7 linked regions of the Homo sapiens genome follow. The protein of the gene in region 3 interacts with the protein of the main gene of each other region in a biochemical or structural test. Each region holds a gene or a part of one and is shown on either strand. Other genes may lie near its edges.

The links.
Region 1: the proteins of OR8G1 (region 3) and GRIP2 interact in a test that uses a peptide from one of them, tested with the Homo sapiens proteins (one large-scale study listed by IntAct).
Region 2: the proteins of OR8G1 (region 3) and TJP3 interact in a test that uses a peptide from one of them, tested with the Homo sapiens proteins (one large-scale study listed by IntAct).
Region 4: the proteins of OR8G1 (region 3) and PARD3B interact in a test that uses a peptide from one of them, tested with the Homo sapiens proteins (one large-scale study listed by IntAct).
Region 5: the proteins of OR8G1 (region 3) and PDLIM1 interact in a test that uses a peptide from one of them, tested with the Homo sapiens proteins (one large-scale study listed by IntAct).
Region 6: the proteins of OR8G1 (region 3) and FRMPD2 interact in a test that uses a peptide from one of them, tested with the Homo sapiens proteins (one large-scale study listed by IntAct).
Region 7: the proteins of OR8G1 (region 3) and DLG2 interact in a test that uses a peptide from one of them, tested with the Homo sapiens proteins (one large-scale study listed by IntAct).

The regions. Positions count from the first base shown.
Region 1 is NC_000003.12:14,533,843-14,537,342, forward strand, and holds part of GRIP2 (glutamate receptor-interacting protein 2), read right to left. Parts: intron 1-3,500.
Region 2 is NC_000019.10:3,748,849-3,751,313, reverse strand, and holds the end of TJP3 (tight junction protein ZO-3), read right to left. Parts: intron 1,177-2,465; coding exon 1,130-1,176; intron 733-1,129; coding exon 630-732; 3' UTR 501-629; downstream 1-500. Other genes in the region: APBA3 (amyloid-beta A4 precursor protein-binding family A member 3), read left to right, coding at 1-125, 217-409. UniProt on the Homo sapiens protein: TJP1, TJP2, and TJP3 are closely related scaffolding proteins that link tight junction (TJ) transmembrane proteins such as claudins, junctional adhesion molecules, and occludin to the actin cytoskeleton.
Region 3 is NC_000011.10:124,239,803-124,243,894, reverse strand, and holds the start of OR8G1 (olfactory receptor 8G1), read right to left. Parts: upstream 2,801-4,092; 5' UTR 2,531-2,800; intron 1-2,530. UniProt on the Homo sapiens protein: Odorant receptor.
Region 4 is NC_000002.12:205,615,975-205,619,474, reverse strand, and holds part of PARD3B (partitioning defective 3 homolog B), read right to left. Parts: 3' UTR 1-3,500. UniProt on the Homo sapiens protein: Putative adapter protein involved in asymmetrical cell division and cell polarization processes. May play a role in the formation of epithelial tight junctions.
Region 5 is NC_000010.11:95,267,004-95,270,503, reverse strand, and holds part of PDLIM1 (PDZ and LIM domain protein 1), read left to right. Parts: intron 1-1,641; coding exon 1,642-1,726; intron 1,727-3,500. UniProt on the Homo sapiens protein: Cytoskeletal protein that may act as an adapter that brings other proteins (like kinases) to the cytoskeleton. Involved in assembly, disassembly and directioning of stress fibers in fibroblasts.
Region 6 is NC_000010.11:48,180,697-48,184,196, forward strand, and holds part of FRMPD2 (FERM and PDZ domain-containing protein 2), read right to left. Parts: intron 313-3,500; coding exon 107-312; intron 1-106.
Region 7 is NC_000011.10:83,461,345-83,464,844, forward strand, and holds part of DLG2 (disks large homolog 2), read right to left. Parts: intron 750-3,500; coding exon 658-749; intron 1-657. UniProt on the Homo sapiens protein: Required for perception of chronic pain through NMDA receptor signaling. Regulates surface expression of NMDA receptors in dorsal horn neurons of the spinal cord.

The sequences.
Region 1 (3,500 bases), on a different chromosome or scaffold from region 3:
GGGGTTCAGCCTGTGAGCCATCTCTTTTCCCAGCTGTCAGAGACTTGACTGCGTGCTGCAAAACAAGTCATACTACTGTGCGCAAAGAGTCAGTGGGCAGCAGGCGAGGCCTCGAGAGACTTCCCTAGGCATCTCAGGGTGTGCCCTTGGTGGCCTCTTGTGGAAGTCAAGAAGCCATTCTTGATAGGCGAGTTGCCAGATGAGAGGCTTCTGAGCACCCAAGACCCCCTGGCATAGTCAGAAAGGTGCCCGGAAGGAATGCTGCAGTGTTTGCTGATGCCTATTCAGAGGGGACATAGGGCCTCTCTTTCACGAACATCCTCAGATGGGGGGGAACTGAGGCAGCATCCAAACCAAGAATCAAAATAGGGTTAGAATTACAATTGGCTGTGTGACTCGAGCCTCCATTTTCCCCTCTGTAAAATGGGGGTGTCTCTCCCATGGCTGACTCCAGCTGGCCAGAGCTTGAGAAGTTGAGGGGATTACTTTATTTATAGAAAACCCCTTGGGGGGGTCAGACCCTAGGCCCCCTCCTCAGAGAACATGCTTGCTCTCTCCCACTCTCTCTTTTTTGTTCCAGGACCTGGTAATTATATGCTTAGAGATGAAGGCTTTTCAAAAACATCTTTCCCACCAATTTTCAGCTGGAAACGTGCATAAAAAACAGAGATATTTTTATCCATGTTTTTTTTTTTCCCTGTCTCCTCCTTCCAGCAACGGGCAATTATGAGCTTTTGCCTTCAGTCAATCGTCCTGTAGGAACTCGCTTCAGAGGAAAATTCATTTCCGCAGTGGTGCCAGCCAGTCCCGGCGAATGTGGGGTGTGCAAGTCAGGGGAGGAGGGACAGAGGGAGAAACGTGCTTGGAGCTCAGACCTGTGCACCTGGTACTCAGGCCCACGCTGCAGCCGGGGTGGGTGGCCTTCTTTTTTATTTTATTTCTCTTGAAATCATGGCTAATTTGCCTTCATTATCTCCCGCTCTCTGGGGCCTCAGGGGGCTATTGAGCTTTGACAAAGGGAAAAGGAAGTCAACTCCTTGCCAGGCTGCCTTCGCCAGGGTCCTGCCTAAGCGGGTGGCTGGAAAGAAGCGTGGGGGAGTGGGTGGGACTATAAAGTCAGCCGGCTTTGACTGCTGCCCTGTTCTGTGAGCCTCCTGGAGGGAGGACTCAGCATCTCAAAAGGGACCACTGAGAAAACAAATGCCCAGAGGCTCCACTTGGGGCGAACAGGACATGATTTGCAGGGACGGTGAGCTGTCGGCCAGGACCATGCCAGCTCACCGGGACCCTGGGTGCTGAAGAGGACATGGGCGCTAAGTACTCCACCAAGTGACGGTCCAGCCCCAGCCAGCTTCGCCCCACCATGGAAGGGATTGTTGATATGGTGGGAAGGGAGGGATAGGCTTTGGAGTCAGTCCAACTTGGGACTTTGATTCTAAATCGGCTGCCAACTGGCTAAGGGATCTGGGACAAGTCACTTCTCTCTGAGCCTCAGACTTCTCCTCTGCAAAATGGGGGTACTGGTGCCCACCTCATGGGTTGCTGGGAGGAACTGTGGGGAAGTGTGCACAGAAACCATAAAACATGGCAGTTCCCTCCCTGCCTGCTTCCCTCACCTTGTTGAAAGGTTTTCCTAGATCAATCATGATGATGGCTCCTAGTGATTAAGTGCTGGTTTCTGTGCTTCCTAAGCACGATCTCATTTAATCCTCACCACTTTTGAGGCGGTATAATCATGATTCTCATTTTACAGATGAGGAAACTGAGGCACAGAGAGGTTAAGTGATATCCCATGATAAAGGGCAGGGCCAGGGTTTGAACCCAGGCCTAATGAGGCACAGAGAGGTCAAGGGAACTGCCCAGGGGCACAGAGCTTCTAAGTGGCAGAGCCAGGATTGAAGCCCAGGCCTTCTGGCTCCCTAAGGGGTCTGGCCCTACCCTCTGGGTACCTTCCTGCCTACTCCCCCATCCATGCAAGCCTGGAAGTTGCTGTAATGCCTGCAGCCCCGGGGCTGTTCGGCTCCAGGCAGAGCCCCAGCTCCTTTGGGCGTTCCTCCCTGGCCACTGAGGGCTGGAACAGGCCAAGGGCTCGATGGAGATGCCTCAAAGCCAGTTACAGGCTGACCTCTGAATGACAGTTCCAATCCCCACGGGCGACAAGCCTCCCAGGAAGCCCAGCTTCCATGGGGAGAGCAGCATAGAAAGATCAGATAAGCTCGGCAGAAGCACGTTTTTCAGGGAGACAAAAAGAAATGCATCAATACATTTAAAAATTTGAAGCCTCATTCATTTGTTGCCAAGGATTGCAAAGAAAAAAATAAAGAACCTTAATAAGTAGCACCCAGTGTTGGGCCCTTCCCTGGGCCAGGCCTGCTCTAAGCACTTTATGAATGCTAAGTCAGTTAATTGTCCTAAGAACCATGGAGGGAGGCTCACCGATTGTCCCCAGTTTACAGATAGGGAGCCTGAGGCCCAGAGAAGCCACTGAGCTGGTGAGCTGCAGAGGCACCTGGAACCCAGGGCTCCCTGACCTCACAACAGACCATGCCCTGAACCCTTGGCTCTGCTCTTTCCCTCCAAACAGGAGGGCAACAGACCCCAAATGAGAAGCATCAGGGCACTGGGAAGGTGACAGCTCCAGTATCCCAAGAATACCTAAGTTAGGGCTCAGGCACTCACAGGCTGGGTGCATCAGGGCTAGCAGGACCCATGGCATCACCTGGAGAGGCCGCCACCCCCACAATCCTCCTCCACACAGGGAGAGGGGCTCCTGTCCAGCAGGCCTGAGCCACACGCAGGCCAACATCCCACCATGGGAGAGCGGGGGCGCAGTCTCAAGTTGGGGGTTGGCCTTCTGCGTTCTGGGTCCTGCTCTCCTGCCCTACTCTAAAACCAGCAATGTCAAGGAACGTGACCTCAAAATCAGGGTCACCCACAGAACCATTCAGTTTCCCAATGGCGGCTGCCTGCAGTCACAAGAAGACTGTGTCTAGCTCAGGGAGAGTAGAAGCAGAAGTCCTCACCACAACTGTCAGTCCCCGGTCCCCTGACTTCACCTCCTGATGCTCGCCCTGGCCAGCTCCACTCCAGCACACTGCATTTTCTCACTTAATCCTCATAACCACACTGCCACTTGGGCACTGTTATTCTCCCCATTTTACAGCTGGGAAAACTGAGGCATGGAGATGCTAAGTGACTTGTTCCTGGTTACACAGCCAGAAGTGACAAAGCGGAGATTTGACCCTATGGGCCCACCCCACCTTGGCAACTGCACTCTAAAGGGAGGTGAAGCCTTCCTGGACACATCTGTCCTTTCGACCCAAGGCCCACCAGACTCACATCCCCCTAGGGCCTTTGCATCGGCTGTTCCCTCTGCCCACAAAACTCTTCCCCAGACATCATCAAAACTCCCGTCTCAGCTCCTTCGGGAACTTGTAGAAATGTCACCTCCTCAGGGAGGCCTTCCCCATCCGCCTGTTGGAACTTACACACGCACCCTG
Region 2 (2,465 bases), on a different chromosome or scaffold from region 3:
GTGGTGGCATCGCCGAGCGTGGGGGCATCCGCGTCGGCCACCGCATCATTGAGATCAATGGGCAGAGTGTGGTGGCCACGCCACACGCCCGCATCATCGAGCTGCTCACCGAGGCCTATGGCGAGGTGTGCGGGTGGTGGGTGGTGGCCAGGGGCGCCCCCACGTCCCCCACGAGCCCAGGCCTGCCCTGAGCCCCGTTCCGCCTCCACTCCCCAGGTGCATATCAAGACGATGCCAGCTGCCACATATCGCCTCCTTACAGGCCAGGAGCAGCCCGTGTACCTGTGACCACCTCATCCCTTGCCTGCCACTGTGCCTTCGCCTCCATGGCCCCGGAGCCCCATCCTGGGCCTGCCCTGGCTGGCCAGGACCCCAGCGGTTCTTGGTCCTGTATGATTTCCTAATATAAAAACAGTAAAAGCTTATGCATTTGGCAAAGTCTCGGATCAGGGTCTACGGGACCGAGGACCTTGTCCTTCCTGGAAGCCACTAGAAGCCGGTGCTGTGAAAATACTCTGTTTATTAAAGACCAGGCGGAGGGAGGTAAGGTTGTGGGTTCTGTATGGGAAACTGAGTCCCAGCCCCAGGGAGGGAGAAGGAGGACGGACCAGCTGGCAGCCTTCGAGAGGTCACAGGTCAGTGGCCGGACCCCAGTCATAGCCGTCTTCATCGGAGGACTCCGCATCATGTACTCGCATAAACTTTTTCTTCAGGGCTTCCCGTTCATAGGTTCTGGGGATCAGGAAATAGAATAGATGCTGTGGGTGGGAAGGGTGTGAGCTTTCTCACCATAAACTGAGGCTGGCTGTGCTAGGCACAGTGGGTGTGGGCAGAGATAAGCACATCTGGGCATTCATGGGTAGGGCCTTGTTAACAAACTCCTATGCATCCCTCAAAGCCCCAGCTGCAATATCCTGCCCTTCAAGAAGCCTTCCTAGGCCTCCCAGGAAGTGGATTCCTACTCCCTTGGCCCTGATTATATGGGGCTTAGAGAGGCTCTGGCAGGCTCTGTCTTCCCCACTAGGCTAGGGGCACCATGAAGGCATAGCTTGGATCTAGATCTGAGTCCGCAGAGTCTGAGTCCCAAGGGAAGGGTTGAGGGCCCCAATCTGGAATATGGGGTTCTTACCGCATGCTGTCCTGTCGCCACTGTCCCTGGGGGTGGCGGCTGTCCACCTTGGAGGAGAGGGAGAGAGGAGCTTCAAAACTCCCCCCAGAGCATGGTGAGTCGAGATCAATAACCACCTCCATCCCATCCCCCACCTTGGCCCGGGCCATGCTGCCCACTTGCTAACCCCGTGACAAGTCTGCAGGTCATCCCCAAATCTAAATGAGAAAACTGAGGCTGGGATAGGGGAAGGCCTTAGCTGAGACCTCCTAGCCTGTCAGCAAAAGGGGAATTGGGTTTCTCATCTGTGCAAGTCCTCACAGGGCCACAGCCATGAGTTCATGTACGTAAAGGACTTAGTACAGTGGCTGCTCCGTATGCAGCCTGCCATGGACAGTTGAGCAGGTTGGGTACTGCACAACCCCAGGAAAATCACTCTAATCAGAGATGTCATTGATTCATAGATTTTTACATTGACCTAGAGAGGGTGTGGAAGAAGATGCTGAGGCATATACACTAAGAGCTACATACACATTTGTTACTGTTAAACACCCAACTACAGCTGGGCGCTGTGGTTCACGCCTGTACTCCCAGCACTTTGAGATGCCAAGGCAGGAGGATCACTTGAGCCCAGGAGTTAGAGACCAGCCTGGGCAACATAGCAAGACCACATCTCTGCAAAAAATGAAAAAAAATTAGCTGGGTGTGGGTGGTGGTGCGCGCCTGTGGTCCCAGCTACTCCGGAGGCTGAGATGAGAGGCTCCCTTTAGCTCAGGAGTTGGAGGCCGCAACGAACTATGATTGTACTACTGCACTCCAGCCTGGGCAGCAGGGCAAGACCCTATCTCTAAAATTTAAAAAATAAAATATATAAATTAGATAGGTCAAGTTCAAAAAGACACGCAACTACTATGTGCCAAAACTTGGGCTGAGCACATTGAGTGCTCACCACCGCCCTGTGCCACCAAGTCTGATACCATCCACCCTGTGTCCTAGATGAGGAAACAGGTGCACAGAGAGGTTAAAATGTTGGCTGGAGGCCAGGTGCGGTGGCTCACGCCTCTAATCCCAACACTCTGAGAGGCCGACGTGGATCACCTGAGGTCAGGAATCGGAGACCAGCCTGGCCAGCGTGGTGAAACCCTGTCTCTACTAAGAATACCTTAAAAAAAAAAAAAAATTAGCTGGGCATGGTGGTGCTCACCTGTAATCCCAGCTACCTGGGAGTCTGAGGGAGGAGAAACGCTTGAACACAGGAGGCCGAGGTTGCAGTGAGCCCAGATCGTGCCACTGCACTCCAGCCTGGGTGACAGAGCGAGACTCTAACTCAAAAAAAAAAAAAAAAAAAAAAAAAAAA
Region 3 (4,092 bases):
AGGTTTGTTACATAGATATACATGTGCCATGGTGGTTTGCTGCACCTATTCTAGCTCGCTCTTTTATTCAGCCATCATTACTGAGAGACAAGGGGTCGAATACTGACCCGAAGCCAAAATGCATGAAAAGTAAAATGACACATTCCCTGCTTTAATAGAACTCTCAATCTAATTCTATCCTGTTAACAATGTTTTCAATAATTTAGTTAAGATTAAAATGGAAATGAGTGATCATTTAATGTACAGATAAAATAAAACTGGAAGAAATAGCCAATACAATGAATACGTGAATTGATTGTTTATACAACCCAACAGGACTGTGTTAAGAAGAAGAGAAATACTGTTGTAGAGACTTGATACTAAGTCTAATATTCACCATAATAAGGGATGATGTGTCAATTATTTCAATAACTGAAGTAAAGTTAGAGAGGCATGCAACTTTTGAATGGTTTCCCGAACGAATTCAGAGCTATTCTGTTATATATACATTTAAAAATGTATTTTCTATTATTTATGTGTCCTCATGTGATCACTATAGGATCAATATGAGGCTCTGAAAAATACTTTACATGTACACAAAATATAGTCTTCTGTTAATACAAGAACAAATAAAAAATATAGGGCTCCTGGTCTATTATGTTTACTCCTGCGTGTTAAAAATTGGGTATATATGACAGTAGCAATAAAAGGTCTGACCAAAGCCAGCTAAGTAGGGTTATAAATTATATAATATCAAAGAATAAGGTAAGGTCACTGAACATCATGAATATCAAAAGCATTTTTCTCTACTTTTTTAGTCATTTACGTTTTTGATTACTTTAATTGTAATCATCATAGTAGGGATTACAGCTGGGAAGAGTTCTATGGAATTAAACTGTGAAACTTTCTTTTTGTGAGTTATACATGGATTTGGGAATTGACAATTCCCCATGGTATGGTCTACACACACCCTTTGGTTAACAATATTCCCAAGTTACTGTAACTTCAGTCCTAAAATATTATGACAACCAGCAAAATGTGGTTGGTTCTAGACACTGAAAATAGCTAAAAAAAACAAGCTAAAATTGAGTGAGAAAAATACTTAACTTCCAGTCTTAGTTTAAATGATTAATTCTTTATGTACAACATATCTGGTTTGAATACAATTCATAAGAAAACATAAAAGTGTACTTCTGTATTAACTAAATGAAGTCCATAGAATAGTGGATGATGGATAAAGCAAGGGGAGATTCAGATTTCATTTATAAAAAAAATAATGGCTAGACTATGATGACTAGCAATCCATGTAAGATCTGTAACATAGCTTCCAACTCATATGCCATGGAACTGAAATGTAGGGAAAGGTTCATAATGGTTCAGAGGTATTGGTCTGTAGCCCTCGGGTTCTCACAGATAAGACTGTGGCATTCAGAGCCAGTTCACTGGTCACCATCAGCCACAAGCTTTCTCATCCAGTAACTTCATTATGCCATATTAATATGACCATCTTCTATGTGCTCATGAGGTTAGAAAGCACCATTCCACACTTATCATATTACACCTGGAGTCCATCGTTTTCCAATGGATATATTTTTAAAAGAAAGACATTGATAAGATGGAAGGCACACAAAAGCTGTCAAGAGCTTGGGAAATATTTGCAGGCAATGAGATAATTAGTGAGCATTTTCATGTATCCTAAGAAGAGCAAGGATAAGCTTTAATTTTGTGTGTGGCATTTGAAAGATTTATGAATACATCTTTTAATAAATGTAACTAACCTGCACAGTGTGCACATGTACCCTAAAACTTAAAGTATAATAATAATAAAAATATATAAATAATTTACTACTGAAAAAAAATAAAAATAAATGTAAAGGAAAATATTCTAGTATTTGAGTTCTTAGAAGTTGAATGAGCTACTTATTCCTGGTCATAAAATACACTGGACCAGAAATCAGATGATGATTCACTTTCAGGGACACTGATGAACAGGTTGCCTTAATTACACTTAGGATAAAGTACACAGATTCATGCTATCTCTTGTCCCTCTTCACTTTTAGTTCCTGTGATCCTCCTCCTTGGCTACAGGAACACTTCGCTTCTTTCAGTTCCTAGAGTCTGTCACATTCACTGAGCCTTTTCATTAGCTATTTCTTTTACATTAGATAGTCTTACCAACACCTGTCTTTCTGATGTCTGGTAAATATTTACTTTTCAAATCTCATTTAAAATGAAGTCATCATGTAAATATTGTCCAGTTTATTGTAATTAAGTTGATCTTCCTACTGTAAGCTCCAAAAACTCTGATTTCCAGACAGCACATTTTCTTTGACTGAGTTATTCTATAAGCCCAGTGATGGACCCGAGCTATTCTCCTCTGTATCTCTAGTAACTAGCAAAGTGGCTGGCCCACTGAAGAGGGTTTAAAAGAGCATTTCATAAATAATTGAATAAGTAAAGATAATGAGGAATAATAGTTTCCTGATTTTTTGCAAAGATTATTTCCAGATCTAATAGTCTCAAATCACAAGTGATGGATGAAAACACTCACCTTTCCACTGCCTAAAAACTTCAATGCTTGATTTTACTTGCAATTTCCTCTTCCTGACATGGAGAATGTTGGCTTGGAATGTTCTCTTCCTGACATGGCATTAATGTTGGTGTTGAGAGTCATAGACACCCAGCATTCTGGAATCTTTAGTGTTGAGAGGGCAGGGCCCAGCCCTCAGTCTCAGAGTCACTTTGAAGCTGGTCTGCATCACAGGTCAGTATTTCTAATTATGACTTTGCAGTTTTTGTTTCTCCAGCTTCAGGGTGGCAAGCATCCTCACCTGAGCAGCTCTGATTGCTGTGCTATAAAGGCTTGCCCTGGGTTAAGATATGCGAGGTACCAAAAAACATGGAGACAAATACTCTCCCGGGATTTCCATTTCTCAGGGACCAAATTCTTGGAAAAAACCAGCAATTACACTTGACATTTCCCCAGTTGTCTAATTTTCCTGTAAACGAATTCCCTGTCAATTTTAAAATTGTCAATTGGTGGTAAATATTTGTGCACAAGGATTATCTCTGCTAAAATGCAGATTCTAATGCAATAGGTCTGAGTGGAGCTTGAAATTCTGCATTTCTTACATGCTTCTAATGTAATTTAGTTCACAGCACACACTGTGATTAATATACTTGAGAGGACTAGGCACATCCTGACAAGTTATCTTGTACTGATAATAAAGTTAAAAACTTTAAAATAACACACTTTTTATTTCCTTGCAAATAGACATATTTAGTTTTAATTTGTGTGTAAATAGGTAATTTATATAGTTGACTGAAAATTCAAATCTGTTTATAATTGTATTTCAGGAAGCATGGTGTAATAATTTAGGGATTGATATAATACTTAATTTTTGAGTTTCTTTGTTGATTTAAATTCTGCCTCCTAATTTTTATAACTGAAGAAAGTATTTAAGTTTTGGAGAAGTTAGTTTCCATATAAGTCCATATAAGTGCCCCACTTCTTACTTTTTATGGTTTTTCACTTTCTTCAAAATAAAATTAGATGAAATTTTATATTGAATGTGCATCAAATAAATGAAGGAATTGAAAAAGACTATATGGGAAGTTACATATTAGAAGCTCTGAAAAATCGTACAAAACACTAGGTTTGATTGTCTTTAAAGAGAATGAAGTAGGTCTAGATCAGTGATTTTACTATGGCTGCACATTTAAAATCAACAAGGAGTTTTTTTTCATAATCTCATCCTAGATTACAGCCCATGGCACATTGGACAATAAGCAGGCAGCACAAATTAGAATAGTAAAAGGCAAAGCAGTGGGCATACTGGAGTGTACAATCACAACACACACGTGGGTCTGCAACTTTGACTCTAAAGTTTTGAATAGGTTTCTGAAGTAAAAAAAAAAAATAATGGAAGAAATAAGGAAGACAAGTTTAGTTAGTTGAATCGGGCAGAAAAGAGACTGCTGCAGGCTAACATTGTGCAAAAACTAGAGATTACAACTAACACATTGTCATGATTTCTGTTATTTTTTGAATGGAAAGAATAAATGAGGTTGGTATCACTGTTGGAAGATGATATTTCCATTATGGTTGGAGAC
Region 4 (3,500 bases), on a different chromosome or scaffold from region 3:
CGTAGACTCAGAAAGCAGTAGGGTGTTCTCCCAATTTAACACCAATTTGAAGGCCATTGATTGTAGGTTTCAGAGTTTAATGCCAAAGGGAATTGTACAGACACACATTCAGACCAAACTCTTTAGATCTCTCGACCCTCCTGAAATGCTACAATGTTCCTCCAAAGAAAACGAATGCAGTGGTTACAGGTTTGGGGAAATAATTACTTTTTTATAGGCTTGATATTTGTGCATACCAGGGAAAAGAGAAATGAGCTTTATGAGCCTCCTAACATTGTTAGGTGGCTTTTCTTCAGAAGATCACTTTAGCTCAAGAATTTTATGAATCTTTGGAGGGGACAATGAGTCATGTTTTAATTTGATTGACTTGGTGGAAAACTATAGCTACAGTGAAGCCTCTGTTCTTCCCCATCAGGATCCACGGGTGACAGTCGGTCTCAGAACCCCTACTATGCTCTTAAGATCTTTACTTGGTGCCATCCTGTGGGAGTCAACACATATATATCTACAGATCTAAGAATAATGAGCTTCAGAATAATTGTTTTTTCAATTTTTGTTTGCTATTAGGTTATGATTTAGGAAAATGTTCCTGTTTCTGAGCTTGTATTTCATCCACTGATTTGATATTGTTAGGAAACGGTATTATGGCAAGGGTGAGAGTGCCACAACCCGATGGCATAATGGATTCTGGGGAGGCTGTGTTTCTCTCCCTTGTGGAAGTCTCAATTCTCCTGCATCTAAAAGTTTTCAATGGTCTGTCCTCTTTCATCTCTCTACTCCTGCAAAAAGGGAGAAAAATAGGGCTTCTTAAAATATCTAGTGACTTGAGGGCAAACATCATTTCACGGCCTTCATGACCCAGCAGTCAGATCTGCAGCCAAGTGGATGTATGTTGATTGGGTTTGGAGCTCAATGTGCCACTCTCTTCCAGGGGGGCTATTAGTGTTCTGAGCTACAAGGAGACACCGGATTGAGTTTTCCCAAGGCCATAAATAAATTGGGAGCTATTTCCTGCTCCCAGGCACATTACTGATTATAGCCTGGTCTTCTAAATACTCTAAAAGCCTGTTCCCCTAAATGCTGGGAAAGAGTCCTGTAACCTCTGGGTGGTAACAATTGAAGGGTGAGTACACGGGCATTTATAAATCTTACACTTGAGCTGTTAATTGTTGCTTGGCTTGATGGAGCCTCTGTCTGTCACAAATATAATGTTAGCTTCTTTCAGGCAGGATCAAATGGAGCGTGTGTTATACTTCAAGCAAGGAAAGAAAACTGTTGCAATCTAGTTTTTGTTCACTTTAATAGTACCTTCACATCACTGGCTGCCATTCAGGATTAGCAACTATTTTATTGACTTTGTATGCAACACAAAACCCAGCTTTGGAGCAGTTTACCCTGAGCCTGTGTGCAGGAGGTATTGCACACTCTGGTGGCAACGCTGCAGGTGAAAACATGGGCACTCTTCCTGTAAAGGCCACTCCTTCAAGACACAGGATTCTCACCTGACACCATCACCCCTGGCTGCCCCTCAAGTGGCCTAGGCTTAATCCAGAAGGAATGTTCTGGCTTGGCTATGTTTAGTAGTCTACAGTAGTTTGGTTAAAATATGGAACATAGTGAAGAGCTGCTGGTTTTTAATGCTTCAAAACAAGTTACACGTCCCTCGTGTTATCATTTTCCTTAAGGTGTATTCAACTCGAGGGGAAGGTAGCATTCAGCAGGTCAGCAGGGAAACCGGTAGCTCCCCTGCACTCCACCTCACGTGAGCAGGGCCTGAGATCCTCAACCACTTCGAACAAATTGCAAACACTCTAAAGGTGCCTGGCTTAAGAGAGATGACAGAACAGAGACAAAAAACTTGATAGTCTGTTTTCAACAGGGCCATAGTAAAGTGTAGTTAAGAAAATAATATCACAAAGTCCAGTAAATAACACTATTTACATCTAAAACTAGCAGTTGCATCCTTCTTGGTAGCAGAATACTATTTTAAATTAAAAAGATAAGAGTAAGCTGGGGTAGAGGGATGTCCTATGTATTCAATAATACTATAATTTATTAAATCCTGTGAGTCAGAGGTATGCTAATCTCAGCCAAAATAGACCTAAATTAAACTCAAGACTTTTTTTTTTGGAGGGAATAAAGAAGGAATGTGAAAAGGCTTAAAGCATTTCAAATGTCAGTGCCTGGTTCAAACCAGTGCTCAGGTTTTGCTGTCTTCCACATCTTTTGCTTGTGTTCTCATTTGGGCCAGCTTGTATGTTTTAGAGGTTTTAGTTTCCATAGAAAATTACTGCAAAGCTCAGAAAACATTGTGATCTACTTAGAGGTTGGGGTTTCAGCTTTTTAAAGCCATAACACTGTCCTTTGCCAATTGGAGGCCTTGGCCCTGCCCTGACCTGACTTTAGCTAATGAAATATAGCAAATGCAGATGGATTTAGCCTTAGCGCCTTTTCTCCGTTTCCCCCACTTTTGCATCAAACTCTCCAGAAAGCATTATTAATCTTTCATTCTCCATACTGGCAATCATATGTGTTCGAACACACACATACACACACACACACATACTCTCTCTCTCTCTCTCTCTCATTCACTTCCATCTAATACCTGCTGGTCATCAGAGGCCATGGTCAGCTCCTCGCTGTCCCCGAGTGCAGATGGTTACTGCTTGGCACTGAGTCTGGACTTGGCATTTCCCAGGGCACTGCCTCCTGTGAGACCTCCCCAGTAGGCCCTCTTTCCCAACTACATTTTAGCCCTCAAGTGGGAACCTTAGAGACCCCAGTTAAAGTAATTATAGGCAGGAGATTTGGGGCTGACTCTGAAACCAGATATCTCCATGCCTGGAATGTGGGAGGGAGGAAGGTGAGGGCCGTGGGATGTTGAACCCTCTTAACCTGATCACCTTAGTCCTCGGAAGATATTCCTTCTGGAAGCTCTGACCAGCTGTGCACATCCTCCCGGGACTAATACTGCATTTTACCGACTTTCATATCAAAAGTGAGGAAACATGAAATGTTTACATCCAATGAGTGGTATCAGAAACCTGATAAATTCTACAAATAAATGCAGTCTTTCTCTCGGTACAAAATATTTCAAGATCACTAGTCATGTTTGCTGTTGTTTTTTTTCTTAGTCAAAAAACCTATACTCACTTCAGATGCCTCTATCTCTGTCTGCTCTGCCACACCTTAGACTTAACAGCTCTAAGAAGGGGGCTGAGGCTCCACCTCGGAGCGGGTAATGCTGCCTGGCAGAGACTGCCTCTGGACCGCCAGTCTCAGAGGGGGATGTCCACGTGTCTGCACATCAGCACAGGTTATCTAGCCAGAGAGGATCCCCAGAGTAGAGTTCCATAATTAGTTGTTTGTGTGTTCCGTTGCCACTCTCACTGATTTGAACAACTCTGAAAGCGTTTCAACTATCAGGTAGTTTTGTTTTTATAGCCCCATCTTTCGTCTTCCTTCTGATTTTTTTTCCTCCCCAATTCCCTTCCCCTTCT
Region 5 (3,500 bases), on a different chromosome or scaffold from region 3:
TGATTTGGTTCAACCCTCAGTTGGCTCCCTGTTTCCTACTGCATCAAATTCAGATGTTTCATTCTGATCACCTGTTATCTCACTAACCTTAGCTGCCACAGCTCTTTGTCATGGAGCCTTTGGTTAGATTCTCATCTGTGAAGTATGTTTTTTGCTTTTTTTTTTTTGCTTTGTGGCACAGGACTGGCAGGTGGATCGAGTGTGGGGGAGTATATAAAAATATTTTGTACACTTCAGAGACCTACCCCATGAGAGGTACACTGTGTTATTACTACCCCCTCAAAAGCACATCTGCCCTTCATTCTCATCTCCATTTCTATCTTTGTCCAAATCCTCTCCTTCAAGCCCGAGTTCAGGACATTCATTCATTCATTGATTAATTGATTTTTTATTTGTTTACCGGCATGTTGAAAAGGGACATCTTGTATATCTGGCATAGACATTGTGACAAATATAAAGTTAAGTATGGCCAGGTATGGTGGCTCTAGTCTGTAATCCCAGCACTTTGGGAGGCCGAGGTGGGTAGATCACCTGAGGTTAGGAGTTCAAGACCAGCCTGGCCAACATGATGAAACCCTGTTTCTACAAAAACACAAAAAAATTAGCTAGGGATGATGGCAGGTGCCTGTAATCTCAGCTACTCGGGAGACTGGGCTGGGAGAATCGCTTGAGCCTGGGAAGCGGAGGTTGCAGTGAGCCAAGATCACGCCATTCATTGCACTCCAGCCTGGGCGACAGAGCGAGACTCTGTCTCAAAAAATAAATAAATAAAATAAATAAAGATAAGTATAAATATTTTCTACCTGCAAGAGAGGAAACAACGACACTAATGAAAACTGAGACTAAAGTAAAATCATTGCTCTGTGGTTGGTACAAAGAAAATAGTTTATAAGAGCAAAAGAGGGGCGTTCTTCTCTTTTTTTTTTTTTTTTGGGATGGAGTCTCACTCTGTCACCCAGGCTGAAGTGCAGTGGTGCTATCTCAGCTCACTGCAACCTCTGCCTCCTGGGTTTAAGCAAGTCTCCTGCCTCAGCCTCCCGAGTAGCTGGGATTATAGGCGTATGCCACCACACCCGGCTAATTTTTGTATTTTTAGTGGAGATGGGGTTTCACCATGTTGGCCAGGCTGATGTCAAACTCCAGACCTCAAGTGATTTCCCCACCTCAGCCTCCCAAAGTGCTGGGATTACAGGCGTGAGCCACCACGCCCGGCCAAGAGGCATTATTTTCATTTGGGTCAAACAGGCTTCACAAATAAGTTGGTTATTTGGTCTGGACCAAACACACTGGGTTGAGATAGAGGAGAAGCCCATTCTATCCTGAGCAGAGATAGGGCAGTGTGAGTCATGCTTAGGAACATGGAGGAGACCACACTGCTGGTGTCAGCTACCCAGAGTGTGGTGAGGGAGGATGAAGTGCTTGGGAAGCCCCTTGGGGCTATGCTGGGGAGCCATCAGCCATGGATGTTATCAGATTGGGGTGTTTAAAAGATCAACCTGGTGGCAAATGGAAGGTAGAGCTGATGGGAGGGTGCTAGTTCAGTGCCTAGTCCAGGAAAGAGGGGGCATTTTTCCAGTTTGTCTTTGGTATATATTATTTATTTTACATGAGTGAAACAGCAGCTTTGTTAATCTGTTGCAGATCTGAACATAAAGTCTGGTCTCCTCTGGTGACGGAGGAAGGGAAGCGTCATCCATACAAGATGAATTTAGCCTCTGAACCCCAGGTAAGTTCTTGCTCATCGTTGCCGCTGCTCTCACCACCCAGCACTTTGCCGTTTCTGACACTGCTCAGCACATTCCTGTTTTTCCTGCCCTGGAGGCCTGGGGATAAGACCCTTCACTGTCTCTGCTGGTATCTGGCTCTTGTTCAGTTCTTCCCGTAAGGGAACTGCAGGAGGATAGGGCTGGAAAACCCCAGGGCAGTGACGCTGTGTCCTGGGCTGGAAGCAGGGGGTCGGAAGGCGATAAGGGAAGCCGGTGGAAGCCTTCCTGCGTGGGAAGGGTTGGCAGGATCACAGTGAAGTCAAGGAGCTATTCAGCTCGTTATGGATTTCAGCAACAAATGAATCATGACAGGGATGAAAATAAGTTTAGGTCTGGAGGCCTAGAGCCTAGAAGAAATCGGGGAATATGTAATAGGAAGCCCTGCTTCTCCCCACTGTATGCCCCTGTCTGGTTTCCATGAGCCATGGAGTGGAAATCTCTATTTTTGTTACAGTGAAACTTCTAGTGAGACTTTAAAATTACTAAAATAAAGCAGCAATTAATATAAAAAAAAGCAGTACATAGTGTACAATTTGTCACCCAGATAGAATTTCTCAGGACAGTAGACTGCCCTAAGATCCCATATTTGTGAATAAATCTCTCAGTAGTTGGATTATTGGATTGTAGGTGATTTTATTTCTTTCTGCCTTATGTGCCTCTTCTAAATAATCTACAAGGCATGGGTATTGTTTTTGAAATAAGGGACAAACTTAGAGATGTTTAGAACATCTTTTGTAAAATTCCTCACACCCAACATGCTACTTGTCTCAAAGTATGTGTCTGTTGGATACATTAATGAATTAGTAATGATAAACTAGGTATGTTGATAATGCCTTTTGAAAATTTTACACTGGTTTGTGATGGTTATGCATTTGACCCAAGTTGAAGATTTGAAATTTAACTTATTTTTCTAAATTTGGGATACTATTTAGTTTTTATGGTGAATTAAGATGTAATTAAAATACAATATATAGCTAGCTATCTTTTATACATAAAACAGAAACTTGTATGAAGTTGAACTCACTTGGTATATTAGTGTGTGTTAATTGGGTGGTTGGATATAAGTCATATTTTCTCAAATAGAATCCATTAAAATTTCAAAAACGAAGTCACATAAAATTTTTGCCATTAAGATAGTAAAAATAATTATTAAAAATCCCAAGAGTCATTTTAAGGATCATTTTGCATCATTTCAAAACTGATGTGAACATATTCTTCTATACAACTCCTCTCAGGAAAGTTCGTAAAATGGCACTTGGTCTATACACTGGCAGTTGTGCAAACTAATTTAAAACATGCCACAGTTAGTTTCAGTTTCCTTGGGAGTTCTCAGCTACTTCATTAAATTTACCATAAATGTTAAATTTTAATTGTTAAATTTTAATTTTTACATATTTTATAACACACAAGGAATGATTTCGTTTTAACTTGGTCTATCTGAAATCCTCATTTTCATGTAAATAAGGTAATTATGTAAATTTCAGTTATAGTTTTCATTTGTAGTATATTTGAATTTTCATTTTAAATCTGTAGTTACCTGTATTAATCTTTTGAAGGTAGTTCTCTTCAGATTACAAAAATTCTCAAATACTTTAAACCCTTGTATTTTTCTTGTGATTCTAGTAATGCTTTATTACTGTAAGAAAAACTTCTCACCCATCATTTTTCCAGTCTTTTACTTCCAGCCATTCTAAAGTAGAGGATAAATGAGTAAGAGCAGAGTTCATCTATAAT
Region 6 (3,500 bases), on a different chromosome or scaffold from region 3:
CTGACATGGAAAACAGAGAACAGGAAGGGCCTAGGGGCCAGGCTGTTGGGCTTCACAGTCTGTTCTCTTTCATCCAGATCTAGAAAGTAAACCAAGGGATGATTACCTTTAACGGCAGAAAGGAAAGCTGATGTCTCAGCCTGGGCACTAAGCTCTGCACCCCAGCCATGTCTAGTTCTTCAGTATTTCTGTCCTGGTCTTGTGTGTGTGACAACAAACTTCCCTGGTACCCGAAGCTCAGGATGTCTGTAGAGGAGACCCCAGAATTGGCTGTGCTATTCTTTTCTTCATCTGGGTTATTTCCACCAACACCTATAAAAACAAGCCAAGAAAAAGTCAACAGCTTAAAAAGGCCGGTTTCTTGGTGGCATCTCTATGTGGGCACAGCGTTTTCCTCCAGTGACAGAGTGATCGTTTATAGCTGCTCGGGTACAATATGAATTTAGCTCCTCCTGAAAGATGTTACATTTAGATTAGAGAAAGGGAAGATTCTACATGGGATTTAGAAACCTAGATAGAGCTTACGTGACCCAACTATGAATGCGTAGGCTCAAAAGAAGTTCATAAGGCCAGCTATCCCTTATTAAGCTCTAGCCATGTGATGGGCACCTTAGATATACATATAGGAAGATATGGACATCTTCCCATCTTCTCAGCAAACCCACCAGGAAGGTGTAATCCCAGTTCAAACATGAGAAAACAGAGTCAAAGCTATTAAGTGTCCTGCCCCAAATGCTACAGCCAGCATGTGGGAACTGTCTTAAACCCAGCCTCTCCTGGACACCCCACTGAGCACATCTGCAGCCACCATGTGATCCAAAAACCAACGTATCAGGTCCTTTTGGGAGGCTTGGTAATAACCAAACTGCAGGCCCCTGTGAGTGAAAGCTAGGCCACTGATTCCTGCTCACCCTGTGTCTGACTCGTGACCTGGCATAGAACAAAGAAAAGAACGTGAGGTTGTGAATCAGTAGAAAAACCTTGGGCAAGGTGCTTAACATAACTGAACCTAAATTTTCCTGTATCTAAAGTAGAGATAATATCAATATCAATAATATTGTAGAGTTGGTGAGGCTTAGAGATTATACGTACAGAAAAGATTTTACATATGTTAAGAAAGATAAAAATATATATGTATATATGAAAGAATATATATTCCCTCATATATATATATATATATATGGCTCTCATACACACACACACACACACACACACAGACACGCACAGCTTAGTACATGGTAGAGCCTCAATAAATGTATCTACTGTTAACATGTTATTATTAGCTGCTCCACAAATATATGTGGGAGGAATGAATAACAGTTAGATTTTCTTTAGACCTGGATACAAGTAGATTTACTACTTTTGATACAGACTCATTAACACTCAGGGAAGTGCCCAAACTCACATGCTGAATGAATTCAATTTAAATAAATCTGATTTAATGAATTTGATTTGAAGTTATTCAAATCTAAAGGTATCCAGCAGGGAGTGGCAGGGCCACTGTTTCATAATGCTGTATTTCTGGCCCTTTCATTCACAGATTCTGTCATCATTGTCCTTCTGGCAGTGTCATAAGCATCGGCTCATTCTCTTCCACATCCTCCATGAGAGGTGAGGATGGGACTTACGATTGAAATGAAAAGTCAAACCATGCTGCAACTGGTGTCCTGCCTAGTAGACATATGAGCTGGGAGACCTTTTTTGGTAAAGGAAACTCAATTTATTGTAGACCATGACAGATGCTCATGATGGACATTTTATCTGTCTGATCCTGATCTCCAATCTAGCCCAGCTGCCTTAACAGCAGCCTAAAGAGATAGAAGAAAGTCATGGTAGTCAAGTCTCTGCCACGGAGACCCAGCCAGCATCACCAAGGAAACATCTTCCTCTGGCAGTGGCCCAGCTATGAGGAAACCCCACCATGATGAAGGCAGCATTGCCAAAAGGTGGCTGGGGTGCCACAGTGAAAGGACATTTTATTCCCAGCCATTGTGGGAAACTCATTGTCTGGAATTCTAATGTGAGGTTGTGGTTTGAGAATAGCAGACCTCGAGTACTGCTTTTTGACAACCTCCATCACAGCAGGCCATCCTTGGACTATGCTGAATTGTGATTTGGTCACCTGCATTGTGTTTCCTGACAACACATGGGATGGTTTGACTGCTCCTGTCAGTGGAGGATGTGGAAGAAAACACAGGGATTGCTGAACCACTGCAGAAAGGAGAGCAGTGGTGCTGGGAAATCCAACAGACAGCAAGCCAGAGACTGGCATTGGAGATGTACTGAGGCCAGTCCCTGAGAAGGCTTCAACCCCAGGATGAAGGGTGTGGGGCTGAGACCCCAGCATGGCCACCTTCCACCACCCATAGCTTCTGGACAGGGGAGCTGCATGGCACTGTGTACAGGTACAAGAGTGAGAGAGCATGCATGCAGAAGTGTTCAGAAGGCAAGGCAAATGCAGTGCCTGCATTTAGTACCTAGAAAATGCTGGCTGGTGTGACAGGAAGTTCTCCTGTATACAAGGGAAAACTGTACAACACCCCTCAAGTGTGAAGAAGCAATCATGAGCCTGAATTTGCAGGCGGTCTGCTGTTAGTTTACAGGATCACCCAACCAAAAAGCAGCATTGGTCTCAGGAAACTAGGGAGAAGGGATGTTAGCCTACTCCCATTACTTCCTCCAGGCTCCTCAAGCTTGGTCCCGATAAAAACAATAGTATTTTCCTTTAATATAGGCAGTTGTTGCTCTCTCATTCTTATCTAAAGGATGAAGAAAAGCATCATCAAAAAGTACTTTACTCTTTAGGTTGATCAGGAACATGCACATCAAGTAAGAAGAGCGAGCTTGCCACGAAAATTCAGCTTTAAGAAAAGGCCAGGTGCAGTGGCTCATGCCTGTAATCCCAGCACTTTGGGAGGCTGAGGCGGGCAGATCACTTGAGTTCAGGAGTTCCAGACCAGCCTGGCCAACATATTGAAACCCCGTCTCTACTAAAAAATACAAAAATTAGCCGGGTGTGGCAGCGCGTGCCTGTAATCCCAGCTACTCAGGAGGCTGAGGCAGGAGAATTGCTTGAACCCAGGAGGTGGAGCCTGCAGAAAGCCAAGATCGTGCCATTGCACTCCATCCTGGGTGAAAGAGTGAGACTCCATCTCAAAAAAAAAAAAGGAAAATCAAATACCGCATGTTCTCATTTACAAGTGGGAGCTAAATAATGAGAACCCATGATCACAAAGAGGGGAACAACACACACCAGAGCCTACTTGAGGGAGGAGGATGGGAGGAGAGAGAGGATCAGGAAAAATAACTATTGGGCACTATGCTGAGCACCTAGGTGATGAAATGGTCTGTATAGCAACCCCTGTGACACGAGTTTGCCTGTAATAACAAACCTACACATGTAGCCCTAAACCCAAAACAAAAGATTAACAAAGAACAGTGCTTGTCTCCTCCCCAGCTGATTGCTATACCTATACAAAATATAGAAATTTTGTATAGGA
Region 7 (3,500 bases), about 41 Mb from region 3:
CAAATTTCACAAAGTCTGATTACTCAGTGTTCTATGAAAGTATATAGGAATACAGAACTCAGAACTCAGGCTCTCCAGAAGAAAACCTCTATTCCCCTTCATGTTTCCAAGGAAACATTTAAAAAGAAAAAAAAAGCAGTTTTGGTTGAGACTTGACACAGTGAACTGAAACATGAGGAAGTTTTAAGCATCTTGTTCAGGTGCTGCTGATAGGGACACTGATGAAAGCTCATGGAGCTGGGGACGGACGCCTCCAAGCTTCTTCTCAAGAGTAACTGCTTTGGACACTGACCATTTTGAGCCCTAAAATTTTGTTTTTCAAGTTTTCTGATGATATCAGGGAGATAGTTTAATGAGGTAGCAATGCCTCAAATCCTTTTCATGGTAGGAGATAGCTCAGGGGTATCTCCTGCCCATGGTTTTGGGTAGGGCTGGTGGGAACCTGGGAGCTGGCTGCAGCTGAACTCTCAGGAGAACCCAGGGTTTTACATCAAAATGGGTGAAGCAGAGGGATACTCCTTGTATATGAAACAGATATTAGGGATTCTCAACAGGAAGGTTTTAGGGCACAAGTACACCAGGCCCAGAACCCTCTCTGTGCCAAATGTCAGACAATTTATCCCCTTTCTCACACTACCAGGGTAAAAGTGAACTTACCTGTAAAATATTCTCCAAATTCTTGTTCTAGCTTAATTGCTCGATCATAGGTTTTCTTGGCTTGTTCCTCTGTTAGACGCTTATTCATCTCCCTGGGAAAATGAGGGTTTGTATTAGAACATAAAGGGAATATTCCAAATCCTAAAAAATTAAAATGTATGGCAAAAATAAATCCTACAGAAAACATAGTGTAATCTTAGCAACAGGTTTTTAGTCTTCATTCAGGACTCCTCTGTGCTGGAATAATTTCAGCAACAAGGACTCACGGCCAGAAAGCTCATTCTCTCAAAGGGCAGTCTCTTGGTCCCACATTGGATTGAAGCCAAATATGTCTCCTTATGATTTGTAGTCACTGGTCCCTGTTCTGCAGGGACCTAATATCCTCCATGGTAGGCCCTAGGATATTTAAGTAAAGTGCTTAAGTGTGTCTTGAGGCTTCTACTTCTTCAGAATAAACTGTCCTATTGCTTCATCTATCCCCTCATTGGATGTGATTTCTAAATCTGAACTTTCCTGACCACCCTTTCTTGGAGTTTGTTCTAGTGTATCTCAGACTTTCTGAAATGTGAGAGTAGAATGGTAGTTATCAGAGACTGGGAAGGGAAGGCAGGAGGGGAGATGAAGAGAAGCTGGTTAAGGGGTATAAAATGCAGTTATAGGAATATTTCAAAATAGCTAGAAGAGAAGAACTGTAATGTTCCCAAAACATTTCTGGTGATGGATATTCCAGTTACCCTGATTTGATCATTACACATTGTATACAGGTATTAAAATATGACATATACTCCAAAAATTTGTACAACTATTATATATAAATTTTTTTTAAAAGGCTCAAGGATAAATCAAGGTGGGAGAGAAATGAAAAATTCTTGAATTCTCTCTAAAACCTAATCTATTGATTCTTAACTACTGGCAGCTTTATCTTTCCGGGTCTTCCAGGTGTTAAAAAAAAAATGTCCTGCCAAATGCAATTTGGTTGGCTGATCAGGATGCATCACAGGTGCATGTAGAATTTCTGAAATCATTACCGTCTTGCATGCTGCTTAGGAAGCCAGAGATTTGGGTCTGGAACATCTGGCCTTAGTCAATTCCTTTCGAGAGCAAGTAACAGAGGCAAGAAGGGATGTGCTTAAGGCTGTGTATTTAACGAAGAGTAATCTGGGGTAAGAACTCAAGGTTTTGGTTTTTTAAACCAATTTTCAGTTAGACTTCCTATTATACCAAGACTTGATATCTTTCAAAAGAGGCTATTTGGAAAAAAAAAAAACAATATATTGACATTAGACATTAATGGCTGAAATACAAAGTAGTGAGAATTTCCTGAACTCTTGTTGCTAAACTCATCTTGTCCTGAGGGGTGTTATGTATAATTTTTCTTCCAAACAGTCTCAGCTGTACATGCTGTGAATGGATGTTACTCGTGGGTGGAGAAGATGCTGGGCTAAACCAAGGGACACTCTTCAGAGAAAGATAAATATTTGCTCCAGATGTCAAGAAATCATGTGGGCCAGGCACAGTGGTTCACGTCTGTAATCCCAACACCTTGGGAGGCTGAGGCAGGTGGATCACTTGTGCTCAGGAGTTCAAGACCAGCCTGGGCAACAGGGTGAAACCCTGTCTCCACAAAAAAAATACAAACATTAGCTGGGTATGGTGGCACATACCTTTAGTCCCAGCTACTTGGGAGGCTGAGGTGGGAACATGGCTTGAGCCCACGAGGTCATGACTGCAGTGAGCCATGATGGCACCACTACACTCCAGCTTGGGCTGGACAGAGCAAGACCCTGTCTCAAAGAAAGAAATCACATAGTTCTGGATCATCTTCGACCTGCCTTCCAAGAATTCTGTCTTCTCTGAATTCCCTTTTTACTGATTACAGCAATGACTTAGTTTAGGTTTTTATTCTCTGACCTGTGAATTTATTTTGTCTCCTTGACTGATCAGTAATTCTTTGAGGGCGAAGACCATGGCTTGTTTGTCAGCATGTGGCATGGAGACTGATTCAACATTTATTTGTTGAATGAATAGATGAGTAAATGAATGAATGAATGAACAAATGGGGAGCTAGATAAACATAATTATAAGATAGTTGAAGACAGAAGTAAACACAGAGCATCATGGGAGCAGGAAGGTAAAAGCAGATTGGAAGTGGCAGGGTGAAGGGAGATTGCCACATGGAAAGGGAACAGAAGTCAGATGGTGGCACAATATAAAAAGAACATCCCTTTCATACACATCTTTGATTTTATGCTCCTCTGAAGAGTCAGCTATGTATGTGCTAATAAGCTCTGTGATTTGATGTGGATGATGCACTTGAGAAATAATGTGTGTGATGATGTATCAATGTGTAAATGTGACAGCTGTCATGCTTTTGTTCCGGCTGACCTAGCATTCACTACTCTCTGGGGAATGGGCAATTCATGGCAGCTTTGCTCCTGGAGTAAAAGCCTTGGAAAAGAGTGAACTGTAAAGTAAACATCCAACCTTTAGTAGGTAGATTGCATTGGTCTGAATGTCACCATCACTGCACTTGAGACCCATGAATATGGCTGCAGCAAATTATGTCAGATTCACTGTCCTTATTGTGAAGTCCAGCCTTTAGTACATTTAACTTTCCTTGGTGATAAGTGGCTGTGACAGTGCCCTAAGGCATAACTAAAATAAGTCATCTCATAGTTGTGGAAGGCAGTAGACCTTCTCCTATGGAATGCCAGATGGGACTGTCTCCTAATATTGCACCGGACCAAATGTGCCACTGCTGTCGTTCCCTCAGGCCTCATTCCCCTGGGAAGCCATTTATCCCACTGAGTGTTTACAATATGAAGATTTATTTTTCTATTTCT